Linked DNA regions of Homo sapiens: all the other regions are linked to region 3. The links come from fine-mapping of genetic effects on gene expression. A gene starts in region 3. Each other region holds a variant in brackets. All regions are shown on one strand. Distances are from middle to middle. Region 1 overlaps LOC105370680 (a long non-coding RNA gene). Region 2 overlaps RCOR1 (REST corepressor 1). Region 3 holds the start of RCOR1 (REST corepressor 1).

What was found. PIP is the estimated chance that this variant, and not a neighbour inherited with it, causes the effect.
Region 1: its variant is the best candidate, but not a certain one, in a credible set for the expression of RCOR1 in T cells (TOPMed, PIP 0.67).
Region 2: its variant is the best candidate, but not a certain one, in a credible set for the expression of RCOR1 in whole blood (INTERVAL, PIP 0.79).

What each region holds. Positions count from the first base shown.
Region 1 is chr14:102,527,964-102,530,803 of GRCh38, reverse strand. All of the region lies in intron 2 of LOC105370680 (a long non-coding RNA gene), which reads right to left. Among named protein-coding and RNA genes, the nearest start is that of MIR4309, 10 kb to the left of the region's middle. RefSeq lists an enhancer at 1,565-2,066. The variant G/A (reference allele first, on the strand shown) is at 1,605.
Region 2 is chr14:102,629,332-102,631,831 of GRCh38, reverse strand. All of the region lies in intron 2 of RCOR1 (REST corepressor 1), which reads right to left. Among named protein-coding and RNA genes, the nearest start is that of RCOR1, 38 kb to the right of the region's middle. The variant G/T (reference allele first, on the strand shown) is at 1,183.
Region 3 is chr14:102,591,307-102,594,087 of GRCh38, reverse strand. It overlaps RCOR1 (REST corepressor 1), which reads right to left and starts at 1,439. Exons shown (of 12, transcript NM_015156.4): 1 at 901-1,439; 2 at 763-822. The coding sequence starts at 1,201. RefSeq lists silencers at 463-1,072, 1,133-2,442 and an enhancer at 2,021-2,781.

The sequences.
Region 1 (2,840 bases), 63 kb after region 3:
AGTACTTTGGGAGGCTGAGGCAGGTGGATCACCTGAGGTCAGGAGTTGGAGACCAGCCTGGCCAACATGGTGAAACCCCGTCTCTACTAAAAGTACAAAAAATCAGCCAGGCGTGGTGGCGTGAGCCTATAGTCCCAGCTACTCTGGAGGCTGAGGCAGGAAAATCACTTGAACCCAGGAGGCGGAGGTTGCAGTGAGCCAAGATTGCGCCATTGCACTCCAGCCTGGGCTACAGGGCAAAACTCCATCTCAAAAAACAACAGCAAACAAAAAGAAAAAAAATAAAACCAGGTACGGCAGAGCCACAGGATGAAAGGAATAAAGGCAGCCCAGGTTCCTGACACTGTGACACTCCTTGCCATATAAGCCCTGGGCCCCTCTAAACAGATTTTGTTTTTGTTTTTGTTTTTGAGACAGCATTTTGCTCTGTTGCCCAGGCTGGAGTGCAGTGGCACAATTCAGCTCACTGCAACCTCCACCTCCCGGGTTCAAGTGATTCTCCTGCCTCAGCCTCCCAAGTAGCTGGGATTACAGGCGCCTGCCACCACGCCCAGCTAATTTTTTTGTATTTTTAGTAGAGACGGGGTTTCACCATGTTGGCCAGGCTGGTCTCGAACTCCTGACCTCAAGCGATTCACTCCCCTTGGCCTCCCAAAGTACTGAGATTACAGGTGTGAGCCACCGCGCCCGGCCGACATCTTCACAATGAGAGAAAAATAAGCTTCCATTGAGTCTGAGCTGTCCTTTTCTGGGGTTTTCTACTGGGTCCGCTTGACTCTGAGTCTAACACTTTTCTTGCTCTTCCAGAGTTTCTTCTCTGAGGAGGTACAGTGAGGAACAGAGAGGTCTTGGTTCAGAGTAGGCCCTGGGGTTTATGATTTGACATTTTATGTAGGGTGCAGGGACCCCAAATGATTTCTATCTTCATTATTCTATTTATTTATTTTTTGGGATCAGTTTCGCTCTGTCACCCAGACTGGAGTGTAGTGGCGCCATCTTGACTCACTGCAATCTCCGCCTCCCGGGTTCAAGCGATTCTCCTGCCTCAGCCTCCTGAGTAGCTGGGACTATAGGGGCGTGCAATCACGCCCGACTAATTTTCGTATTTTTAGTAGAGATGAGGTTTCACCATGTTGGTCAGGCTGGTCTCGAACTCTTGACCTTGTGATCTGCCTGCCTTGGCCTCCCAAGGTGCTGGGATTACAGGTGTGAGCCACAGCGCCCGGCTATTTTTTAATTTTATTTTATTTTTGAGATGGAGTTTCGCTTTTCTTGCCCAGGCTAGAGTGCAGTGGCACGATCTTGGCTCACCACAGCCTCTGCCTCCCAGCTTCAAGTGATTCTCCTGCTTCAGCTTCCTGAGTAGCTGGAATTACAGGCATATGCCACCACGCCTGGCTAATTTTGTATTTTTAGTAGAGACCGGGTTTCTCCATGTTGGTCAGGCTGGTCTCGAACTCCTGACTTCAGGTGATCCGACCACCTAGGCCTCCCAAAGTGCTGGGATTACAGGCATGATCCACTGCACCCAGGCTTTATTTTTAATTTATTATATTTTTTTCAGACAGGGTGTTGCTCCGTTGTCCAGGCTGGAGTGCAGTGGC[G/A]TGCTCACAGCTCACTGCAGACTTCACCTACAGAACTCAAATGATCCTCCCACCTCAGCCTCCAGAGTAGCTGGGACTCTGCCATTGCACCTGGCCCAGAAATGATTTTTAGTAGTTAACTCCTTTTTCTTTCTTTTTTTAATTTTTGTTTTTTTGAGACAGTGTCTCACTCTCTCACCCAGGTTGTAGTCCAATGGTGTGATTGCCATTCACTGCAGCCTCAACCTCGTGGGCTCAAGTGATCCTCCCACCTCAGCCTCCCGAGTAGCTGAGACTACAGGTGCACGCCACAACCCCCAGCTAATTTTTTTTTTTTTTTTTTTTTTTTTTTTTTTTTTGTAGAGAAGGTTTCACCATGCTGCCCTGACTGGTCTTGAACTCCTGGGTTCAAGCGATCCTCCTGCCTTGACCTCTCAAAGTGGTAGGATTACAGGCTTGAGCCACTGCGCCCGCCTGCTAAACCCCTTTTCACAGGAAATTTTACTCAGAAGCTCAACAACAACAATAACAAAATCACTTCCTGAACTGAGAATGTCCAGTTGAAGTGAGTGGGGTGGGAGCCCTACCCACGTGGCCTCCCCTCCTAGGTCCCCAGTTCCCTAAGACACTCCCAGTTCCCTAAGCCTCTGGCACAGCTACGTATTTATTTATTTATTTATTATTTATTTATTTATGAGACAGAGTCTCGCTCTGTCTCCCAGACTGGAGTACAGTGGCACGATTTCAGCTCACTGCATCCTCTACCTCCCAGGTTCAAGCGATTCTCCTGCCTGAGCCTCTGAAGCAGCTGGGATTACAGGTGTGCACCACCACGCTCAGCTACTTTTTTGTATTTTTAGTACTTTTTGTATTTAGTATTTTTTTTATTTAGTAATTTAGTATATGTTGTATTTTTAGTGGTTTCACCATGTTGGCCAGGTTGGTCTCAAACTCCTGACCTCAGGTGATCTGCCCACCTCTGCCTCCCAAAGTGCTGGGATTACAGGCGTGAGCCACTGTGCCCGGCCAGGGCTACATTCTCGAAAGCACCTTCCTGCCCCCTGCCTTACCCCAGGATGGCAGGACCCAGTCTCTGGGTGTCAGAGAGAGTGACGGGAAGGCTACAGTGACTCAGCCTGGGAGCCACCAACAGCCATCACCCCTGGGCCTGAGGTCGGGCAGGGCTGCTTGTCACCCTCGGGAGTCTTTGGCTCCGGGGACTCAGGGCATAGCAGCACCTTCCCCAAGCCCTCCCCA
Region 2 (2,500 bases), 38 kb before region 3:
GAGACCCTGTCTCAAAAAAAGAAAAGAAAAAAAAGAAAGAAAAGTAAAGAACAGAACAGAAAAGAAGAGTTGATGGGTTCTGCTTAGAAGCTATATTCAATTTAAAACATCACATGCATACTCAATGCAGTCACATTTTCACATTAGGAGAACTGCAGGAAAACAGATTCAAGATTCAAGGTCACACCTATGTGTTGTTTTCTCCAAGTTGTAGAGATGATAATGATACCCACATGTCCAGACTAGGTGAGGACAGTTCCAGTTTATGTCTGTCAACCTGACATAATTTTTAATAGGCCCCTTTTTATTCTCAAAAATAGTCTGGACTGGGCCGGGCGTGATGGCTCACACCTGTAATCCCAGCACTTTGGGAGGCCAAGGCAGGCGGATCATGAGGTCAGGAGATCGAGACCATCCTGGCTAACACGGTGAAACCCCGTCTCTACTTAAAAAAAAAAAAAATTAGCTGGGCATGGTGGCGGGTGCCTGTAGTCCCAGCTACTCGGGAGGCTGAGGCAGGAGAACGGCGTGAACCTGGGAGGCGAGGCTTGCCGTGAGCCGAGATTGCGCCACTGCACTCCAGCCCAGGCGACACAGCAAGACTCCGTCTCAAAAAAAAAAAAAAGGTCTGGACTAGTCCACTCCCAATGGACCTACTCCCACACCCCATGCAGTCACTTCTCACAGTGAGTTTGGGATGGTCAGAGACACAAAGTCATCGGGGAAATGTGACAGAAGTGATGATATACCAGTTCTGGGCCTACACTTCAAAAAGAACTGGCAGTTTCTGTTTCCTTCCTCTGGGAATGTTTGCCCTGAACCACTGCATAAGCCATCAGGTCCTACTGCAGACCTCACTGGAAAAGGAGAGGTCGTGAGACTACACAGTAACCAAGAAAAAAGGCCCAGCTGTTCCAGATCACAGTGGAGCAAGCAGATGACACCGGCCCCCATTAGCCCAGAACCACAACTGCCCACCTGAACAAATCCTCAAATACCAGCAGTTGTTTTAAGCCATTAAATCTGAGTGGTTCGGTGCACTTTCCTATGAGGGAGAAGGGGACTTCTGGAATTCTTCATGAAACAGTCCGGAGGTGAGTGGAGCTGGGAAATAACTTGAACCAGAAAAGGAAAGCTCCTTCGTGGTGACAGTCCCCACTACCCTTCTTATCTTCTGGATGA[G/T]GTATTACCTTCAGATCCAGGAAACTAACAGGAGGACCAATCCGAGGAAGCTCTGGGAAGGTGAAAGCTGAGAAATGTGTAAGGTGTCGTATTTCTGCACTGATCCCTGATAGGATTCTTACCTTTGAACAGTTGCTTTGAATGGAGTACATGCTAAGCAGATACTTTGAATCTATAAGTATGTATATGATTAGGACCTAAAGGGGTTGTCTTAGTCCCTTTAGTGTTCCTATAAAGGAATACATGACACTGGGTAACTGACAAAGAAAAGAAATTCACTTGGCTCATGATTCCGCCGGCTGGAAGATGGGGCATCTGGTGAAAGCCTCAGGCTGCTTCCACACATGGCGGAAGGTGAAGGGGAGCCAGCATGTGAAGAGGTCACATGGCCAGAGAAGCAGCAAGAGAGAGGCGCCAGCTCTTTTTAACAACCAGCTCTTGTAGGAACTAAAGGAGTAAGAACTCACTCACCCCTCACCCAGGAGGGCATTAATCTATTTATGAGGGTTCCAGCCCCATGGCACAAACACCTTCCATTAGGGCCCACCTCCAACACTGGAGATCAAATTTCAACATGAGGTTTGCTAAGGACAAACCACATCCAAACTATAGCAGTGGTTAAGTAATCTGCCCAAGACTCCCCACTTCTGCCTTACACAAAATAAGGAGGCATCTCTTTATCTAGGAGGTCACATATAATGTAATAATAGTCAAGTCACTTCAAGCTGAGTTCTGCCACTTACCACTTGAGGCCTCAAGCAAGACGTTTAAGCTCTCTAAATATCAGTTTTATGGTCTGTACAAAGGGGATGATGACATGTGTGGTGTAGGATTGTTATGAGGATTAAAAAGATGTTTGTAAATCTCTTTAACACAGTGCTGCCCTTACACTCACATATGCAGACTCGCACACACGTGGAGCTAGAAGCAAGGAGAGAAGGCTGCAAGGTGCCTTCAGAATTGTATCAGCTCATCCATGTTTAGACTACAAATAGCATTTGTAGAGCAATAAAGGTATTCTTTGTGGAGAGTTCCAGGCCAGACACCTATACTTTGTATACCTCCTGGGAAAAGCTCCTGTCCATTTTTTTTATCTCTATCACAAAGCTTCGAAATTCCGTCCGTATTTTTAAATAAACAGAAAACTTGTTACTGAGAGGCAAATTTGCACCAGGCACTATTCTAGAAGCAGTGGTGGGGGGGGGGGAGGCTGTTAAGGCAACAAGATTTTAAAAAGCTCTCCTCTCACCTCACAGTTTACCGTCTAGTTGAAGGAATCATACAATAAACAAGATAAATAAGGAAGTGTGTTAGATGA
Region 3 (2,781 bases):
AGAATAGCAGCCAGGGAACTAAGTGTTCCATTCTAGGGTGTAGGGCTTTCTTGTAGGTGAAAAGCATTTGTTAGGCTAAAGCTTCTGATGCTTCTCAATTTCACAATCTCTTCCTCCAAAAAAAAGGAAATACACACATTTACAAATAGGTCCTAAAATCCAACTGCCACACGCGAGACTCTCTTCCCCAGGCAGGCGCCCTCTGGAAAACACACTTCTTTTATTGACTGGTTTTGGGGGGTCGTTCTTCTACTCGCCTTCTGGATGGGAGGGCAGTCAGGAGCCAGCAAGAGCCCAGAGGCTGAGAGGAGGAGCAAAGGCGTGGGGAGCAGCCTTTGGGAAGGGTTCCGAGAAAGGGGTCTCTGGGGACCTCCTAAGTCCGGGGCGCTCGCAGGACACTAACTCTCCGGCACTGCCACCCTTACCCCTGGCCGAGGCGCAGCTCACCTGGACGCAGGGACCCCCAGCGCCCCCAGGCCAGGTGTGGCCACCTCCGACGCCACCCGCAGTCCTCGGAGGCGCAAGGGGGCAGCGGCGCCGGCCCTGCTGGGGGCGACCTGGCCTCCCCCGGGTGCAGAGGCACGTTTGCAGAACACTCGTGTGCGTGTGCGCCTCCTCGTCCTCGCCCTGCTGTTCTCCCCACGGACGGCAGGGCGAACGCACAAAAAGAAAGTTGTCGGCGGGCTCCCGCCCCCTCGGGCTCGCCGGGGACCCGGGGCTCCCGCTCATCCCCGCCGCCGGCCGGCCGGGGCCGCTACTCACCGGGGTCGAAGTCGGGCACCACCGCCTGGTACTGGGGTCCGACCCTCATGCCACCGCCACCTGCGGGGGAAGCAGAATACGGCGGTCAGCGCGGCGCGGGGCGCGGGGCCCGGGGCCGCGGGGGCGGCTGCCACCTACCGTGCTCCTCGTCGCTGGACGAGCCCGAGCTGCCTTCCTCCCAGGAGTTGCTGCTGCTGTTGCCATTGGGCGCCGCCGCCGCCAAACTTTTATTCTGGCCATTATTGGGGGCGGCGGCGGCTGAGGCGGCGGCGGCCGAGGCTGAGGAGGCGGCGGCGCCCGAGGCGGCAGTGGCGGCTGGCGAGGCGCAGGCGGCCGAGGCGGCGGCGGAGGCGGCGGCGGCGGAGGCGGAGGCGGCCGCGTTGTTCCTCCCTCTCCGCTTCCCTGAGACCTCGGGGCCCTTCTCCACCATGGCCGGCATCGGCGGGGGCCGGGGCCGTGCGAAAGTGGCGGGGACCCGCGGCTCCTGAGGAGGGGGCGCCGAGACGGGGGAGGGGGCGCGGGGCCGGCGCGGGGCCGGGCGGGCGCGGCGGGAGCCCACGGGCGCGAGTCCGAGTCGGGGGAGGCCCAAACGGGCAGAGCGCGGAGCCGCTTCAAGCCCCCAGCGACGAGCCGAGCGCAACTTTCGCTCTCATCGCCGCCCTCACTTCACTGGCACCAACTACTCCGGGAGCAGCGAGCGGAGAGGGGAGGAGGCAGGGGCGGGGCCTGCAGGGGCGCCGGGGGAGGGGGGCGCGCAGCCCAACTGACGCGAGATGGCTCCGCCCCCCCTCGCGCTCCCATTGGCTCTGGTGGGATTTGGACAGCCAGCGGCAGCGGGGTTGGCTCCGCGCGCCCGTCCGTCCGGGGCGGCGGGGCGGGGGAGCGGGGAGGGGCGGCTCCGGGCTTCCGTTGGCGAGGTTCGGTTGACGCGTATCGCCCGCCGTACGTGGTTTGAGGTTTGCCATCTCCCTACGCCCCATGATCCATCTCTCCAGGCAGCGGCGAGGAGTTCGCGGCCCTCCCCGCCCCCTACCCTTGGCCGCGGCCCCTGCCCTTGCTGCCCGCGCACGCCTCCCGCAGCCTCTGGCCCCCCATCTGAAGGACCCCGCTGAGAGTCCCGTCGACTTCTCAAAGTAAAATGTGTCTGGCGCTGGGAAGCCGCGGAGCGCCCGGCCGGGACTACTTTCCGCTGCGCGGAGGAGTACGGGCGCGCTAAGACTCCATACAAAGAGGAAACTAATTGGGGGAAACTCGCTGCGCCCCCGCCTTTCCCAGGGGACGCGGGGCTGGCGGGGGCGGGGGCCGCGGCGCGGGGGACGGGCTTCCCAGGCGGCCGCCTCCCCTGGCGCGAGCTGCGTGGGGACTCGGGTCTGCGGTGCTGCCCGCTAATTGGGTGGGGGAGGCCGGGGCCCCCGGGGTGGCTTGGGTGCGGGGTGCGCCGCGGCTTCAGAGGCCCAAGGGAGGGTCCCCGTGGGTCCCCGGGGCACAGAGTCCCGGCGTGGGGACGCCCAAGCCGCCTGGGTGGCCGCTGAAAGATGAATGAAGGGGCCCAGTCGTCCTGGGGCGGGGGTCCAGGAAGGGTAAAGAGGAAGAAGCTATTTTCATCCCAAGCTCTCGGCACGGGAGGAGGGTCAACTTCTTTCGGGGCGAGGGCAGCCACTTTTCCGGACCTGCCGCCCGCCCCGCCTCCCTACTCCCCCCGGCACCCCCACGAGGGAGAACACGGGGTGCGGGCGGGTGGGGTAGGCTGAGGCTAGCCTGAGAGCCGCTGCCTTGGAGAGGGACCACCGGGCAGCCGTACAGCTGTTAGGAGGCTGAGGAGTGTAACTGCCTTGGAGGTCCCGGTGCCCTACCCCCAGCCAACCCTGAAACTACGCGCCCTTCGTAATTAGACCAGTGGAGGTCTATACGGAAAATCTTTTTAAAGCAGGGAAGGCTATTTTTCTTTTAAGTTACTTCAAACCTGAGCTTAATTTGGGGACTAGCTCTGGATATAAATAGCTACAGGGAGAATTTGGG